Regions from separate parts of the Homo sapiens genome. Here all the other regions are linked to region 3. Evidence: fine-mapped expression QTL. A gene starts in region 3. Each other region holds a variant in brackets. All regions are shown on one strand. Distances are from middle to middle.

Region 1 (5,870 bases), 110 kb before region 3:
TAAAGTAGTTAGAAGAATTGTAATGTTCCCAACATAAAAGGTAAATGTTGAGGTGATGAATATCTTAATTATCCTGATGTCATCATTAAACACTGTATACATGTATCAAAATATCACACATACCCTCCCAAATATGTACAACGAATAAGTTAGTGAGACACATACGCTTTTTATAAATATTTTTCTTTTGAAGGATTTTACTATGGATTGTGGAATTTGTTATGCTTATCAACTTGACGGTACCATTCCTGATCAAGTGTGTGATAATTCTCAGTGTGGACAACCTTTCCATCAAATATGCTTATATGAGGTAAAAAATAAAAATATTGTCAAGACTTTTTTCCGCTAACACAACATAGGAAGTATTCCTGTTTGAAATACACAGAATCTAAAATCTGTTGAGTCAATAGTGATCCTCTCTTTTGCCATTAACTCCTTTTACCAGTTTATTCCAGATGCTTATGTGCTTCATTTCTTCATCACAGTTACTAATGAGTGGAGAAATGTTCTGAAGTATCCAAGGGAGAAAATCTATCCAGAATATATTCATGGACTAGCTTATTGACACATAACAAATTAAATTGATGGTACATTGGAATCTTTCTATAAATTCCTTGTTACCACAATGTAAGCTTCATAGGTTTACCCGAGGTGGAGGTGGTTGAAAGTGGCAGTAATACAGTGAAAATGAAATTAGTACTATGTAGTATCTATTACTTTTCAGGCTGCATTTAAGAATAGAATATATCCAATACTACTACTTTTCATGTTGAGAAGAATGCCTTTTGTGATCTGAGTCTCACAGCACTCAGGCAATGCCACTTTACTTACTGTATGTGAAGTCTACTTTCATTCCTGTCTTTAGTGCCTGGCTTCACCTTAGGGCCTAGTTGATACATGATAAACTGTGTGTAACTATATACAGAACACCTTGCAATTGTATGTTGCCTTCGGTTTCAGTCTTCCTTAATATCACATCTTTACTTTTGTGATTAGAGGTAGCAGTTGGTGCCGTCTGTACTTTGCCAATGGAGAACTTAGGCAGAGGCATCTATTTACCTTATATAAAATCATGAAATTACAGAAATACAGGTCAAATTACAGAAATACTCTAAGGGAACATGTGATTTCTTTTGTAATTATGAATATTCATTTAATTTTTAAAAATTCACTGGCTCATGCTTATAATCAATGGGTTGAAAATTAACCCACTGTTAGTGATTCAGACCAGAACTAAGAGGGAAATTTTCAAGAGCCTGTAGTATCTTTAACAGCAGGAGTTGTTAATTTGTGATTAATGGATTTAGGGAAAGTCTATGAATGCCAGGAACTTAGTATGCATTATTTTTATGTATGTCTATTCTGGGGATAAAGAAAATGCGTAATTCTTATCAGATTCTTAAAGGGGCCCATAATCTGGTTATAAACCAGTGGTTTAGGCCTTCAATTCCATGTTGATTTCCCTTGTTACTCAACATCTTAATAGTCTGCTATTGGCTCAGGAAATACATCCCTTACTCTTGCAAAACAAAATTAAGCTAAGTCTTCTGGAATAAAAACATAATGCACTTAAAAACAAAGGGAATGACATTTGGAGTATCTGTAATTTGTAATCATGCTGACGCTTCTCCTTTATCTTTTAAAATTTGCAGTGGCTGAGAGGACTACTAACTAGTAGACAGAGTTTTAACATCATATTTGGTGAATGTCCATATTGTAGTAAGGTAAGCAAATTGTTAATCACATCTCATAAAATGTGCCTAGCTTTCAGTAATATGTTCTAGAAGATAGATCTATATAGTATATCAGTTTATCTAAAACTTTTGAAACTCATTCTCTGTATTTCTATTTTTCAAATTCTCTGATCAAAAACATTAAACTCCTTTTCTAGATTTCCTAGGTGATCTGAAACTTCAGAAGTGTTTTCCAAACTGTACTATGACACTATTCTATGACACTATTTCTAGTACAAAGCAATTTTATTTTTTAGAGTGTCCACAAACTTTGTTAAAATATGTTCTCTTTTTAAAGCCAATTACCTTAAAAATGTCTGGAAGGAAACACTGAAATAAGAATACAACATTTCGGTGAAGAGCTGGAAACTTAAAAAATTATCAAAAGGAATTTTGGTATCATCTTCAGAGAAAAAATAAAGCAAGAAATACTAACATCAAAAGGACAGGTATGATGATGCGATAATAATAAACATCTGCGTTTGTCTCTTCACTAAGAGTAAACTGGGAAATTGTAGGCCAAAGTCCAGTTGAACTTTCTAAGTCTGTGATCCCCGTGCTGACTGTGGAAGTGTATTTATACCAAGATGGAGATCTTGACTTCTTGAATATATCTGGACTGGTAAAATCTTGATGAGGCTCATAAAATGAGTTTGGGAATTGTGTATAGCTGATTTTTTGTGGGAAACTGTTTACTTCATTCAAAGGTTCTTGAGACTCTTGATATTTCTGTCTTCTCCTTGTGCTTTCCTATGGAAAAAATACATATATAGTTTAGTTTGTTAGACGTGAGTTATCCAAGTATTTATTTTGTGTAGTGTGTAAGAATGCTAAATAAAATGTTATACAAGATCAAGTTTTTGCGTGTTATTTTTCCTGAGAAGTAATTTTTAGGTAAAGATCTTAAAGATTTACACTTTTTAAGAGTTTATAAACATCCAACAAGCAAATCTGGATATAATTTGAGTGGTTCTTTTAAACCACGT[C/A]AGTAGGCCATCTCTTAAGTAATTTATAATCTAAAAATAAATAGGATAGAATATGAAAACTGAATTTTCTTGGCAAAACCAAAAAATTGGGCTTAATCTTAAGGGGGTAAGATAGCCATAATTAGAAATATTTTGGTCATTAATGTGATTCTTTCTTTACCTTCTGATTCCATGGCAACTGAGAAGTGTCCACTGTACAGTGGGCAAAGGATGAGGCTGTACACAGCCAAAGAAAACTGCCTCAGGGGTAGCTATAGTGTTATGTCTCTTGGAAAGCTATACAGACGAACCAGTATAGACCGAATAGATATTAATATAAAGCAAATTAAGTGGTATTAATATAAAACAAATTAACTGGTTACTTATGCAAGTTTCGGGAGCTACTTCTATGTTTTCATCATTCCTGTTGGCCAAAGTCCCAGGAATCAGTTTCCTGATCACCACTTAACTGGCTGAAAGTCGAGTTTTTCTGCTTTGCTTTGGTGACATCTGGCATGCCCCCTCAGCACCATTTATCAAGTAACTAACTTAGAAGAGAAGAAATTTATAAAACAAAGCAAAATACTTTAAGCTTGTTCACTGTCCATCATTCTCAGAATAGCTACTACCTTCTCAACCTTTAAACTGCCACCCTTCAAACAAACAGCCCTCCCCTTTCTAGATACAGAGTTTTGGAAGTGTCAGAAAGGAGTCCTACATAAAACAAAGGATGTTTTAAAAACTACTAGCTTTCCTATGAAAAAAAATTACTTGAGAGTTAAATGACTCACTTTAGAGTTAAATAACTCATTTTAAACTACTCTTTCTGAGCTAACGAAGTCACATTAATGCAGTTTTTCATAAGTTTGTCAGCTTTATTAACTAAAGTCAAAATAAGTGAATAATTATTCCAGTAGGCCTATAAAGCATAATACAAATAATAATTATGCTATCAAATCATAGAGCAGCATTTACATATAGCTCACATGTGCAAGGCTGGGAGATATCTCCACTTAGGTAAGGATAGAAGTCAAGCTACTATAATTTCCAGAATCATCTACTGTGTAATCTATACACTTAATCTCTCTTGAACATCAGCAAATGACATCATATGGCAAGGCACTCATCAAAGAATTTAACCACCTGTTGTCTTCAGTACACTGAGGGGGTCTGATTAGGATAGTCTATAACAGGAGTTGCCAAAATTTGGCTTGGCTAGTTGCCTGTTTTGTGAATAAAGTTTTATTGGAACAGAGCCACATCAATTTGTTTATGTATTGTCTATGTGGGCTTTTGCACTACAATGGCATTGTTGAATAGTTCTGACAAAAACTGTATGGAAAGTAAACTGAAAATATTTTCTTTCTGGCCTTTTAAGAAAAGGTTTGCTGACCCCTGCTCTACGGCATTATTCTTCGAGTATTAGAAAGCAAACAGATCATCATAACTTGTTAAAATGCAGATCTCATTCAAAAGGTCTAGGAGTATGACCTGAGATTCTGTATTTCTGAGAAGCTCCAGATGATGCCAATACAGCTGGTCTGCACACCCCACTTTGAGTAGCAAAGGGCTCAAGGCAATGCAATAATCTACTGTGATAGAGCATTGGTTCTCAGCCTGGGTTGATCCTGCCCCACAGAGGACATTTAGCAATTTCTGGAGACATTTTGGGTTGTTACAGCTAGGAGGAGATACTATTGACACCTAGTAGATAAGTACTAGGAATGATGCGAAACATCCTACATCACAGGACAGCACCCCCACAACAAATAACAGCTCAGCTCCCAAATGTCAACAGTGCAGCTGTCAAGAAACCCTACATTAGAATAGTTATTAACTTTGAATGCACATCAGAATCGACTGGGAAGCTATGAAAAATAGCAACACTACTTCCACTCTGGCCATGAAAATCTGATACCAGACTTCCCCTTCTGCTGTGAAAACCCATAAATAAATAATAGAAAACAAAATTAGTCAAAATATGTGAAATAACTTAGGGATCTAAAACAAAGCTCAGGAAGGGAAAATAACACAGACCTAAGAAAGGCCACAATTTAAGATTTACTGCAGACTAGGCCAAAAAAGCCTGAACAGAACTTATAAAATGATCAGGTTTAGTCACCAGTAAGTTAACTGTCTGCCAGAACTAACCTCAAAACTCTTTAAAGGAATGCAATAAAATCTGGAGTCTAAAGACCACAGCATCCACAATGTTCAGTATACAATAAAACTACTACAAATGAGATGCAGGAAATGTGACCCATAACCAGGAGAAAAAATTAACAGAGATTCAGGGCTGATCCAGATGGTACAATTATCAAACAAGGACTATAAAACATCTACATAAATATGTTCAAGGAATTAAAGTTGAACATAATTAATGAACAGATATGGGGGAGGTGGAATCTCAACATACAAAGAAATATACTTGTGGAACTGAAAAATACAGGGTATAACATGAAAAATTCATTGGCTAGGTTTAACAGCTGATTTGACAATCAACTAGAGGTCAGGCAAAAACAAAACAAAACAAAACAAAACAAAACAAAAAAAACACCACCACCCAACCTGAGGTACAGCAACATAAAAGACTGATTTAAAAAAATAGTTATTTAGCTGCCTATGAAAAAGGTAAAGTATTCTAACATGCATGTATTTGGAACTCAGAGAAATAAGAGAGATTAAGGCATGAAACAAATTGATGAAATCATACAAAACCTTTCCAATTTGAAGACAAATATCAACCCACAGATAAAAGCAGCTCTACGAACCCAAAGCACAATAAACAAAAGACAGCCATCCTTACAAAACCAAAAATAACAAGCAAATCTTGAAAGCCACAGAAAGAAATACATTATAAATGGGCCAATAAGAATAACTGCTAACTTCTTAGCAGAAAAAAAAACAGACCTATGAAGATGGAAACATCCTTTTTAAAGTTCTGAAAGAATAGATTCCATATTCAATGAAGCTTTCAAAATCAAAGTGAGGGGCATCCAGTTATAGACAAGAAAGAGTAAGCATCCCACCTTATTCTGGTAATTAAAGAGTGGACAAAAAGCACCTATCAAAACACTGAAAATTCTAAAAATGACCCTCCCTTGAGTCTCCACCCGCCATGTACTTTAGTACCTCCTATTACCCCAGCCTGGGCCATAAAAGAGCCTGCGTT
Region 2 (5,948 bases), 100 kb before region 3:
CCAGAAATTAAGAAGAGGAGGAAGGCTTCTCAACTCATAAGGTCACCATTACCCTGATACCAAAACCAACAAAAACAGTAGAATAAAAAGATAACAACAGACATCAGCTCTCATGAGCACAGATGTAAAACTCCTCATTAAAATACTAGCAAATTAAATCCAGCAACATATAAAAAGAATAATATAAAATGACGAAGTGGGGTTGATTCAAGGAATGGAAGACTAATTTAATATTCAACCACAAACCAGTGTCATCCACTATGGTAACAGTCTAAAGAAGAAAAATCACATGATCATATTAATTGATACAGAAAAAGCATTTGACAATATTCAGCACCTATTCATGATGAAAACTCTTAGTACATTAGAAATGGAGGGGAGCTTCCTCAACTTTATACAGAACATCTATAAAAATGTCTACAGCTAACCTACTGAATAGTGAATGGACAAAAACTGGAAAGAAACCAAATGTTCTTCAATGGTATATCCATACTTCAGATTACTACTGAGCAATAAAAAGGAATGAACTGCTCATGTACACAAAACTTGGATCGATCTCAAGGGCATGATGACGAATGAAACAAAGCCATTCTCAACAAGTTACATATCATAAGATTTGATTTATATGATACACTCAAAATGATAAAATTACAGTGATGCAGAATAAACCCACTGCTTTCTGAGGATTAGGATTGGGAAGAGAGTGTCACTATAGCATGAGCAATTCCTACGTGGTCATGGAACAGGTCTGCAGGATAATTGTGGTGGTTACTCCATACATGTTATAAAATATCTAAGGAACACAGACATGCACGAGTACATGTCAAAATTGGTGATATCCTAATAAGGTCTGTATTTTATGGTAGTATATGAATGTCAATTTCCTGCTTTGTAAAATTATATTATGGTTATGTAAAATGTTTTCATTTGCAGGAGTTGGGTGAAAGGGTAGGTAAGGGTATAGGGAGGCTGTATGTATTTTTGCAATTTCGGAGTCTACAGTTACTTCAAAATAAACTGTTAAAAAAATGCAGAAATAAAATATAAATCCACCACTACAAAAAAAAATGCAGGTGAAATACAAATATTTTCAGACAGACAAGAGGTGACAGAATTAGATTCCAGGAAATATATACTATGATAAATGTTAAAGGAATTTGTTCAGGCTGAAGAGAAATTATACCAAACTAAGATCTATTGAAGGAATAAAGAATTTCAGTAACTGTAAATACTGGGATATGTTAAGACTTTTTTTCCTTTTCCTTTCTTAATTTTTTTAAAATGAAAAATGGCTCCTTAAAGCAACAATACCAATGCATTCTGAAATATATTACACATGTAAAAGCAAAACGTATAACAACAATAGCACAAAGGATGAGGGATAAAGGGAAGTATATATTTTTAAGGTTCTTACACATTAAGTCAAGATAGAATGTAATATGATCAGTTAAATGTGCACATGGTAATTTCTAGAGCCACGCTGTCTAATATGACTTGACCACTTGAAATATGGCTAGTTATAATTGAGATGTGCTGTTACTATAAAATAGACACCAAATTTTGAAGACTTTAGAAAAAGATGTAAGTATCTCAGTAATATTATTCTGATTATACCATTGTGGATACTGGTTTAATCAGAGGACGTTATTAAAATAGATTCTACCTGTTTCTTTTTACTTTTTGAAATGTGGTTAGTAGAATTTTTTAAATTGCATATGTGGCTTGCATTATATTTCTGTTAGGCAGGATTGTGCTGAGCAGGGATTTGCAAACTTGTTTTGTAAAATGCCTGAGAGTAAATATTTTAGGCTTTTTTGACCATACAGTCTCTGTTGCAGTTAGCTCTGCCACTATGGAACAAAAGCAATCAAATACAATATGTAAGTGAATGAGTATGGCTATGTTCCAATAAAACTATTTACAAAAATAGGTGGTTGGCTGAATTTGGCCCATAGGCTATGGAGCTGACTGACCCCTTGCTCTAGAGTGACCACCAAAAAAAAAAAAAAAAAAAAAAAAAAAAAAAAAAAACAAGCATAGAAGCATAGTTAAAAAAAAATTCTCAATCAGTCCAAAATAAAGCAAGAGGGAGGTAAAAAGGGACAAAGAACAAATGGGGCAAAAAGAAAGCAAACTGCATAATGGTAGATTAAACCCAGCTATATCAATAGTTACCTCAAATGGAAATGGAGCAAATATAGTTACATGAAATAGATATGGAGCAAATAAAAGATAGTGTTTGCCAGATTTTATAAAATAGCGAGGCTCAACTATATGCTAGTTACAAAAGCCACAGATAAAAAGACACAAGTGGATTAAACAAAGGATGGAAATGGATACAATGTATAAATGTTAATCATAGGAAGGCTGGAATTGTTAAAAGTCAGATGAAGTAGAACTCAAGATAGAGTATTTAATAGATATAAAGAAAGATATTTCAGAATGATGAACAGGACAGTTAACCAAGAACATATAACTACTATCTGCATATACCTAATAACAGCATCAAAATCTATGAAGCAAAAATGTATAGAAGCAAAAATGTATAGAAGAGACAAATGGATAAATTCACAATTACAGTTGGTGATTGTAACATTCCTTTGTCATTAAATGATAAAACGAGGACAAAATAAAACAGTGAATATATAAGATTTGAACACTATTAAACAACCCCAAACTTCATAAGTATACAAGGAACATTCACTAAACTAGGCCTTTTCCTTGGTGACAAAATAAGTTTCAGTGAATTTTAAAAGATTGCAATAATACAGGATGTGTTCTGATGACAGCAAAATTAAATTAGAAATCAATAACAAAAAAGATACCCAGTAAACCTTAAAAATACTTAGGAATTAAATAACATACTAATAAATAATCCATGGGTCAAATAAATCAAGGGACATTAGAAAATACATTGAACTGATTAATAATGAAAACACAACACATCAAAATTTGTGAAATAGACAGCCAAAGCACAGCTTACATATTTATAGGTTTAACTATATACGTTAGAAAAAAAATGAAGGAAAAAATTAGTGATTTAAACTTTCACCTTATGAAGCTTGAAAGAATAAATTAAATGCAAAATAAGTAGAATCAAGCAAATGATAAAGAATTAGTGAAACAGAAAACATATCAATGGTAGGTTTTTTTAAAAAAATCAACAAAACCAAAGGTTGGTCTTTGAAAAAAAAAAAAA[AC/C]TAAAAAAAAAAAACCAAAGCTGGTCTTTGAGAAGATCAATGAAAATGATAAGCCCTTAGCTAGACTACTAAAAAAAGAAAGAAACCAAAAGTTACCATTATCAGAACTGAAAGAGGGACATCAATATAGATATTGGTGATGATAAAGGGAAAATAAAGAATATCCTAACTTAGTGCTGATAAATTTGAAAACTTAGATGAGATGGACAAATTCTTTGAAAAATACAAATATAAAACTGACCCAAGAAAAAAAATCTAATGATCACTCTATATATTATAGAAAGTAAATGTGCAGTTAAAAAATTTCCTACAACAAATTATCAGCCCCGATGGTTTTCTTGCTCAATTCTATCCAACATTTAAGAAAGGCAAATCTTACAAAAACATTTTCTGAAAACAGAGTGCAACACTTCCAACTGGTATAATTCATAATGACCCTGAAAACAAAACCATACAAGGATATTACGACAAAAGAAAATTACAGCTGCTCTGTGAAGTAGCCATCCTTTTATTCCTTTACTTTCTTAATAAACTTGCTTTCACTTTGCAAAAAAAAAAAAAAAAAAGAAAAGAAAAAGAAAATTACAGACCAGTATCCCTCATCAGTCTAGGTATAAAAACCTTCCATGGAACTGAAATTCAGCAGGAATTGAGTTGGAATTCAGCAAACAGAATTCAGCAGGAAAACACATCATGCCTAACTGGAGGTTTATCCCAGAAATAAAAGGTTGATTTAACATTTAAAAATCAGTGTAATTCATCGTACTAGTAAAGGGAAAAAATCATGTGATCATCTCAAAAGATCTCAAAACAGTATTTAATATTCATTATTTACATTTATTTTTCAACAAATATGGTGAAATTTCCTCAGCCTGATAAAGGGCATTTAGAAAAAATCAACAGCTAACTTAATGGTGAAAGAATGAATGCATTCCCCCTAAGATCAGGAACCAAGCAAGGATGGCCACTGTCACAACTTCTATTCAACGTAATACTAGAGCTGCTAGCAGATGTAATAAGACAACGATAAAAAATAAATAAAGGGCATATATTGGAAAGGAAGAGGTAAAACTGTCTCTATTCACAGACATCATTAACTATGTAGAAAGTCCTAAGAATCTATTTAAAAAATAATAAAACCTATTGGAACTAATAAGTACATTTAGAAAGATCCCAAGACACATGATTATATTGTATATCAAATATAACTGATATAGAAATAGAAAATAAATTCTATTTCTATATACCAGCAACAAATAACTGGAATATGAAATTTTGAAAATTACTACTTAAAATGGGATCAAAAATATTTAGAGATAATTTTAATGGAAGATGTATAGACATCTACACTAAAAACTACAAAACACTGTTGAGAGAAGTTAAAGAAAATGCACATAAATGCAGAGAAGTTCCACATAAATGCAGAGAAGTACCAGGTTTATGCACTGGAGGAGTCGACATTGTTGGGATGCCAGTTCTCCATAAACTCATCTTTACACTTAATGTACTCCCAGTCAATATCCCATTGTGCATTTTTTGGTGGAAACTAACAAGCTGCTTCTTAAATTTTATGGAGGAGACTAGGACCTAAAATGGCCAATACATTTTTGAAAGAAAATAAAAGGATTAAAGAACTATTCTAATTTCAGAACTTGCTGTAAAGCGACAGTAATTGATGCAGTGTGGTGTTGGTGTAAGGAGAGACAAGTAGAATAGAAGAAAATAGAGCCCAGAAATAGGCTCACACACACAGTTAGCTGACTTTTGAAAAGGGCTCCAAAGAAATTCATTAGGAACATCTTTTCAATAAATGATGGTGCAAACTATATGAAAAAGAGAACCTCAACCTCCACCTCACACAATACACATGAATTGATTTGAGATGGCTCATAGAACCAACAATGAAAGCTAAAACCATGAGCCTTGTATAGAAATATATAGCAAAATAACTTTGTGACCTTGAGGTAGGCAAAGGTTTCTTAGGTATCTTTACAGAAAAACAAACAAACGACAAAAAAACTATTAAAATATTGATAAATTGAACTTCAAATAAAAAAACAAATAATATAAAAAGCTTCTGCACATCCTAAGATACTATGAATTAAATGATTAGGCAGGCCGCATGCTAGGAGAGGATATCCATAATACAGATATCTGATAAGGACTCCTGTGGCTTAACAATAAAAAGACAAATATCCAAATAAAAATTAGAACACTCGACAAAGAAACTTTGTAAGAACAGATATATGAAAGGTCAGTAAAAACGTGAAAGTGCTCAAACTTAATTAGACATCAGGTGAATAATTGGAAACGCAATAATACACTAATACACATGTTAGAAAGGCTAAAATTAAAAAGAGTGACAATACCAAATATTGGGGAGGACATGGAATGGCCAGAACTCTTGTACATTACTGGTGGGAGTACAGAATGGTACTTTCAAGAACTATTTGTCAGCTCTTTATAAAATTGAACATACACCTGCCCTACGACCCAGCAATTCTACATCTCAGGAGAAATGAAACATGTCCATTGAAGGATTTGTGCCAGAATGTTTGTAGCAACTATATTCATGGTGGCCAGAAATGAGTAGTAGCCCAAATGTCCATTAATAGGAGAATGGCCTTGTGAATTATGATGTAGTTACACAATGGACATGTGAACTATGATATAGTTATACAATGGAGTGCTGTTCAGCAATGGAAAAAACAAATTACTAATACATGCATGAACATGGATAAATCTCAA
Region 3 (5,948 bases):
ATTCCCTCAACGGAGGTATTTTATCAACTCCTTAATCTCCTATAGAAATAGATGTGATCTCAAGTCTCAAGTGAGTACATTTAGGAGAATTTATCCTTGAGGGTATATTTTTAAAAATCACTACTATTTTCCTTATTTTATTAATCAATCTTTTAATGGATATCCCCTCCTCATTCCAACTCAATGATCCATTAAAGTTCAGTGTAATTTTTAAATGCTTAAATGCAATGTAAAGGCCTATCCAGCCCATGGTTCCTTACCTGTACCACAGATCACAGAAAATAATTTTGAGTGTTTATTTTTTCAATTATCCCAAGAATGGCACATCCCTAGGGACCACTCTAGATGCACGAGAGAGAAGTTAATTCATTTCACAGAATAGATGCCTTAAGTTTTATCTATGAATTCTCCAGTAGAGCCCAATTAAGAAATGACTAGACTCTTGTATTGCCTAAATATTGATTAAGATTCACAAACAGAAAGTGTTTTTATCTATACAGTTGTGGTTTCTCATCTGAAAAAAGCATGTTTCTAAGAAAACAAGCTCTCAAAAAAAAAGAAAGTTAGCATTTTGTCTGGCAGATTGTATAATTATGCTCTAAAAAGACTTCTAAGATTTACTCAGAAAAACATGGACAACAAGGAGTGGGTCAGTGATGTCTTGAACCTAGACACTGTACTCTATTATTACTTAATCGAGTACAATCATGAATTTTAATAAAGTACACATATGAATTCCATATTTCCATTCTTAAAATACCACTAAGTAATCACGGTTACAGTCACAGATATAAGAATAATTGTTAATTTAAGGTTTTACTTTACCTAAATATATCAATCCAAATCCTCCAGAGCCAATCTTCTTGCCCAGTACCCACTGATTGCCTTCCATATCATCCAGAACCTTGCCTTCTGGAAATGGAATAGGAAGTTTGTATTTTTCATTTCTTTTTGGTGGCATCACTTCTGTTGGCAGAAGGGGTGAGATAAATGGGTAAAAAGAAAAACAAACAAACAAAACTCTTAAAATACACTTCCCAAAATGTCTTCAATAGGGAACTTTCCCAGGTTCCCAGAAATTAGGATTCTAAAGTTAATTCAGTTTGGAAAAGCCCACACATTATATTCAAATTAGAAATTCACATACATTACAATACTGAGATCTAAGAGGTATAGATATTTTAAAAAAACAGAAGCAAACTAACCAAATTTCATCCAAAATTCATTTCGGGGTTCTATAGCACATATTAACAGTGCAGGACACACCTTAAGAAACACGAAATTAACAATTTCCAATGAAGAAAGAAAATAAATTTCATGTACATGGAAATATTGCTGTCACTGAGAATGTAAAATGTTAAAAGTGAGAAGGTCTTCAGTCACTAGAAAAGAACACAGGATTGGATTGGGAAGACACAGACAATGGCAATGGACATCTCACCACCGTGATACTAGGTACTCAGTAAACATTTGTTAAATGAGCCAGGGATTTTCACGGATATGTAACTTAGCAGAATACTAGGCCATCAGTTCTCGGGCTGCCAAAATATTCTCAGCATTTTGTCTTCTTACCCTCTTTCTCAGTTTATCACAGTGAAAACAGTCCTGCCTTAGAGATTACAACTGTGCCACCAACAACAAAAGCATAATCTCCACAGCACAGCCATGCAACTTTAATCAACTAATTATAATTGTACATAGGTTAGCAAATTTCTCAATGGGAAATTCTGAGTTAAAAGAGAAAATTTCTTAGGGGAAAATACATATGCCAGCATACATGCCTGAAAATAATTTAAATGTGAAGGTAACCATGATCCTCTAAGTATTTAAAACTATTAAGAGTTTCTGACATGAAAGTTAATTAAAAACGTATATACGTAAATGTAAAGTTTTCTTAATATAATCTTCCTAGCTTCCATAAAAGAAAGTATCTGTTTTTCCTTTAACGGGTTTTTCCTCCTTCACTTAACTGCTTTTTTACTTAGCAGTATTGTCCCAGGTAGAGTCGCTGCGTGTATCTTTAACAATATTCACCTTCCTCCTGATAGGCACACAAGGGCTGGGAATTTGGATGGTGAACTATGCCTAGAGCATTGATTGTATCATAAAGCAGGAAAAGTTTTTGTGGAGGTTTCCCTTGACCAGTACATTATATAGGCTGGTGCCTATTACAGATTTACTGATTTAAAACTTAAAGTCTCCAAAGTGTAAACTACTGATTAAGGAATAAATTCTAAATAATTATAAAAAAGATAAATACACTTTGGGGCAAGGCAGCGGCCTCAGGGCTTGAGGCGGTAAGGGAGACTCTACGAAATGTACATCCTGGGGGCGAGTCCCGAGTTCATCTGCCAAGGGAAACGACAGCCTCTCAGGGCCCGTCCCTGTCAGGGGTGTCCCTTCGGCTTCTGGGTACCTTCCCAGGGCTAAGATGAGTCCTCAACACGAGTTTCCGAGCAAACTGGTACCCAGGGGTTAACATGTGCCTGGGCTGACCTCCAACCCCGCCGCGGCCCCTGACCCTGCGGAAGGTAACGAGAAGCAGCGCGGCCCAGCCGCCTGGTCCGTCCGCCCTTAGCACGCCGGGGACCTACGGCCAACCCCGCGCCCCAACTTCCCGCCACAAGTTCTCTCTGCACCGGCAAAAAGAGAAACTCCACCCACTTTTCCGCTAACACGTCGGACCCGCTTTTGGCAAACGTGAGTAGAAGGGGACGCCTTGTTCTCACTCCCAGCGGGGAAAAAAGAACCAAACGCGGAAGCAGCGACTCTGCCCGGGCCGGAGCTGAGGCCCGGGGGCTGGGACGGCCCGGAGTCCCCGGCATCTAACTCCGACGGCAGCCCTTTTCCGAGCGGGGCCGCGGCTCCGGCACTGCAAGCGGAGGTGCCGCCCGCCACCCAAGACCCCAGAGCAAGAGACTGACCGGGCCTCAGGATCCCCCGTCGCCGGGCCGCGCGCACCGCCTCCTACCTGCCGCTGCGACGAGGCGGAGCCCCCGGGCCTACAGTCCCGCGGGGAGGCGGGCCCAGCACTCGAGCCTGCCCTCCCTAGGACCTGCCTAACTTCTCTCCAGCTGCGTCGGCCTCGCAGTGCAGCGGCCCGCGGAGCCTCACACAGGCCGCAGCCGGTTCCTTTCAGCGGCCTGTCCACGCCCCGGAGACGCCCAGGGGAAGGAGAGGGCGCGGCTACATGGGGAATGGGAGCTGTGTTACTACCTCCACCCTGGCCCGCCAGCGTCTGGACGAAGAACCGCCGCCAGACCAGTTTGGTACGAAATAAGCACGACATGCATTTGTGTAGGAGTGTTAGATCTCCTGTACCACAACCTGAGTACTACGAGCTTCCAAATGGCTAGTCCTTACCGAGCTCTCGCCGAGCAACTAACTATTGGTACTAGCGAAGACTCCAGTTAGGAGGGCCTGTATGTAACTCACCGCGTTTAAGTTCTCAAAGGCATATTGGTTCAGGACCTATTTCTGCCATTAATCGTAGGATAATTTAACACCGTAATTAACAAACTTCAGGTTTTTTTGTCTGTGAAATGGAAATAACCCTTGTTGTTAGATTATAAGGTTATTGGTTATAAGATTATGACAATAAGGTGAGGACTTTATTAAGCAGTTTTCTAATACATAAAGACTCATAGTGGCCAGGTGCGGTGGCTCACGCCTGTACTCCCAGCACGTTGGGAGGCCGAGGCGGGTGGATCATCTGAGGTCAGGAGTTTGAGACCAGCCTGGCCAACATGGTGAAACCCTATCTCTACTAAAAATACAAAAAATTAGCCAGGCGTGGTGGCGGACGCCTGTAATCCCAGCTACTCGGCAGGCTGAGGTAGGAGAAGCGCTTGAACCCAGGAAGCAGAGATTGCAGTGAGCAGAGAGCGCGCCACTGCACCCCAGCCTGGGCAGCAAGAGGGAAACTCAGTCTCGAAGGAAAGAAAAAAAAGACTCATAGTAAGCTTATATTTTAGACTAAACCAAACAAATGCTTAGACAAAGATTATTAATACGTCAGCATTCTACATAGTAACCACCAATAATTGGTTGGGATACAAATACTGAAAGGAAAATTAGAGCCCTTTAATGACTTTGATAGAATAAGGAATTGGGGCTCCCTACATCTTTCAGACTGTCACCAAAATGAAAGATGGCATGAGAAGACGTTTCTAAAAACAAACAAAAAAGTATTTTTAAAGAAACAGTCCATAGAATAATTGTGCCCTTAGTCATTCACTGGTCCAACAGTGTCCTTTCTTATTTTCTTAAGATATTTATATAACAGATGCATAATTACAGATATTTATGTAACAGATGCATAATAATCCTAATATCCATATTGGGTACTCTTTCCTCCTTTCCAAATTTGTTTAGCTTTCCACCACTTCCCCGGCTCCCTTTTGAGAAGAAACAACTCCAGTAGCAACCACAGCAGATTACTTGTAGGTGGTTCCTCTCCCTACAGGCATGTATCCAGTGTTAGTAAATCCTGTTGGCTCAACCTTCAAAATACATCCAGCATCTATCACTTAGCACCCTTACCTGCATTCTGGCCCAAACCATATTTTTTCTCTAGGTAATTGTATTACCCTCCTAAATGTTTTATACCCTCTTATCCCTTTAGTCTGTTCACAGCAAGCAGCCACATGATCCTTAACGCTTAAATAATTACTGAGCTTAAAACAATTCAGTGTTATTCCAATTTACTCACAATTAGCCAGTCTTCGCTATGACTTTAAACAGCATTTCTCAACCTGGGCACTATTGACAGTCAGCCTGGATAATTCTTTGTTGGGGGTTTGGGAGAAGGAGGAGGATTGAGAGATAGGCTGTCCTGTGCATTGTAGGATATTTAGCAGTATCCCTGGTCTCCTCAGCACTCCCTCCCACACAAGTTAACAACCAAAATATCCCCCAACATGACGAAATTTTGCCAAAATTGCCAGTCGTTGAAAAGAACACTGATCTACCTATTATGCACTCCCACTCCCCAATGTCCTATTACTCTCTTCAACCACAGTGGCCTGCTGTTCTCAAGAACTTTTCGCATTTACTGCCACCTGGACCACTCTCCAACCTGGTATCCGTATAGACTGCTCCATCACTTCCTTCAGGTCTTTATTTAAAAGTCAGTTCAGTGAGACCTTTCCTAAACATCCTATCTGAAATTTCAGCTCACCCACAATATTTCGTAGCCTCTTTCCCTGTATTTTTCCCAGTACCTACTGCTATACAGCAATATATTATACAGTTTATTATTTATTTTGACAAAAGACAATCTTTTTCAGTAAATTGTATGTTTCATGAGGTCAGGCAACATTTTTGCCTGTTTTCGTCACTACTGTATCCCCAACCCCTAGAAAGGATATGGGCAACCATTTCCTTCTTCAATGAATAAATGAACCATGCTGGCCCCATTCCAATTCCCATGATTGGTTTAGACAGTACAAAATAAGCATGTGCTGAGTCTAGGTAACGAGGTGAAAAGAAGTTTGCTGGACACATTCTTGGAAGAGATAGTCTCTGATGTGATGGTTAAAATGGCTGCAGTCATCGTGTGACCACAAAGATGGGAAAAAGTACTAATCTAAAGCCCCAGGAATGGCAGAATATTCAACAAATGTTAGAACAGCTAGACATCCATATATACAAAAAAAAGAAGAAAGAAAGAAACCTCAACCCTTAATTCACACCCCATGTAAAAATTTACTTGAAACTGATCATACAGCTAAATCTAAATACAAGATCTAAATCTCAAACTTTTTAGAGAAAACCTAGCAGAAACTCTATATAATCTTTAAATGTGTGCACTTATAAAGTATAAAAAATTTAAAAGCTGGAAACCTAAAAGAAGAAATTGACAATTTAACTTCATCAAAATGAAAAACTTTTGCTTTTCAAAAAATACTAATAAGTTACCAAGGATTTGGAACAACTTGGAACTCTCT

The links.
Region 1: its variant is fine-mapped to the expression of VRK2 in blood mononuclear cells (TOPMed, PIP 0.97).
Region 2: its variant is fine-mapped to the expression of VRK2 in whole blood (INTERVAL, PIP above 0.99).

What each region holds. Positions count from the first base shown.
Region 1 is chr2:58,155,962-58,161,831 of GRCh38, reverse strand. VRK2 (VRK serine/threonine kinase 2) reads right to left here. Exons shown (of 13, transcript NM_006296.7): 13 at 1,961-2,483. The coding sequence ends at 2,139. It overlaps FANCL (FA complementation group L), which reads left to right. Exons shown (of 14, transcript NM_018062.4): 12 at 194-310; 13 at 1,653-1,724; 14 at 2,032-2,585. The coding sequence ends at 2,067. Among named protein-coding and RNA genes, the nearest start is that of FANCL, 82 kb to the left of the region's middle. The variant C/A (reference allele first, on the strand shown) is at 2,720.
Region 2 is chr2:58,147,815-58,153,762 of GRCh38, reverse strand. The region is part of intron 12 of VRK2 (VRK serine/threonine kinase 2); the gene reads right to left. Among named protein-coding and RNA genes, the nearest start is that of FANCL, 91 kb to the left of the region's middle. The variant AC/C (reference allele first, on the strand shown) is at 3,200.
Region 3 is chr2:58,043,845-58,049,792 of GRCh38, reverse strand. VRK2 (VRK serine/threonine kinase 2) reads right to left here and starts at 2,987. Exons shown (of 13, transcript NM_006296.7): 1 at 2,925-2,987; 2 at 826-966. The coding sequence starts at 961. LOC107984043 (formin-2-like) reads left to right here and starts at 2,560. Exons shown (of 3, transcript NR_171623.1): 1 at 2,560-3,269. RefSeq lists a silencer at 2,735-3,004 and enhancers at 2,608-3,163, 3,155-3,274, 3,164-3,719.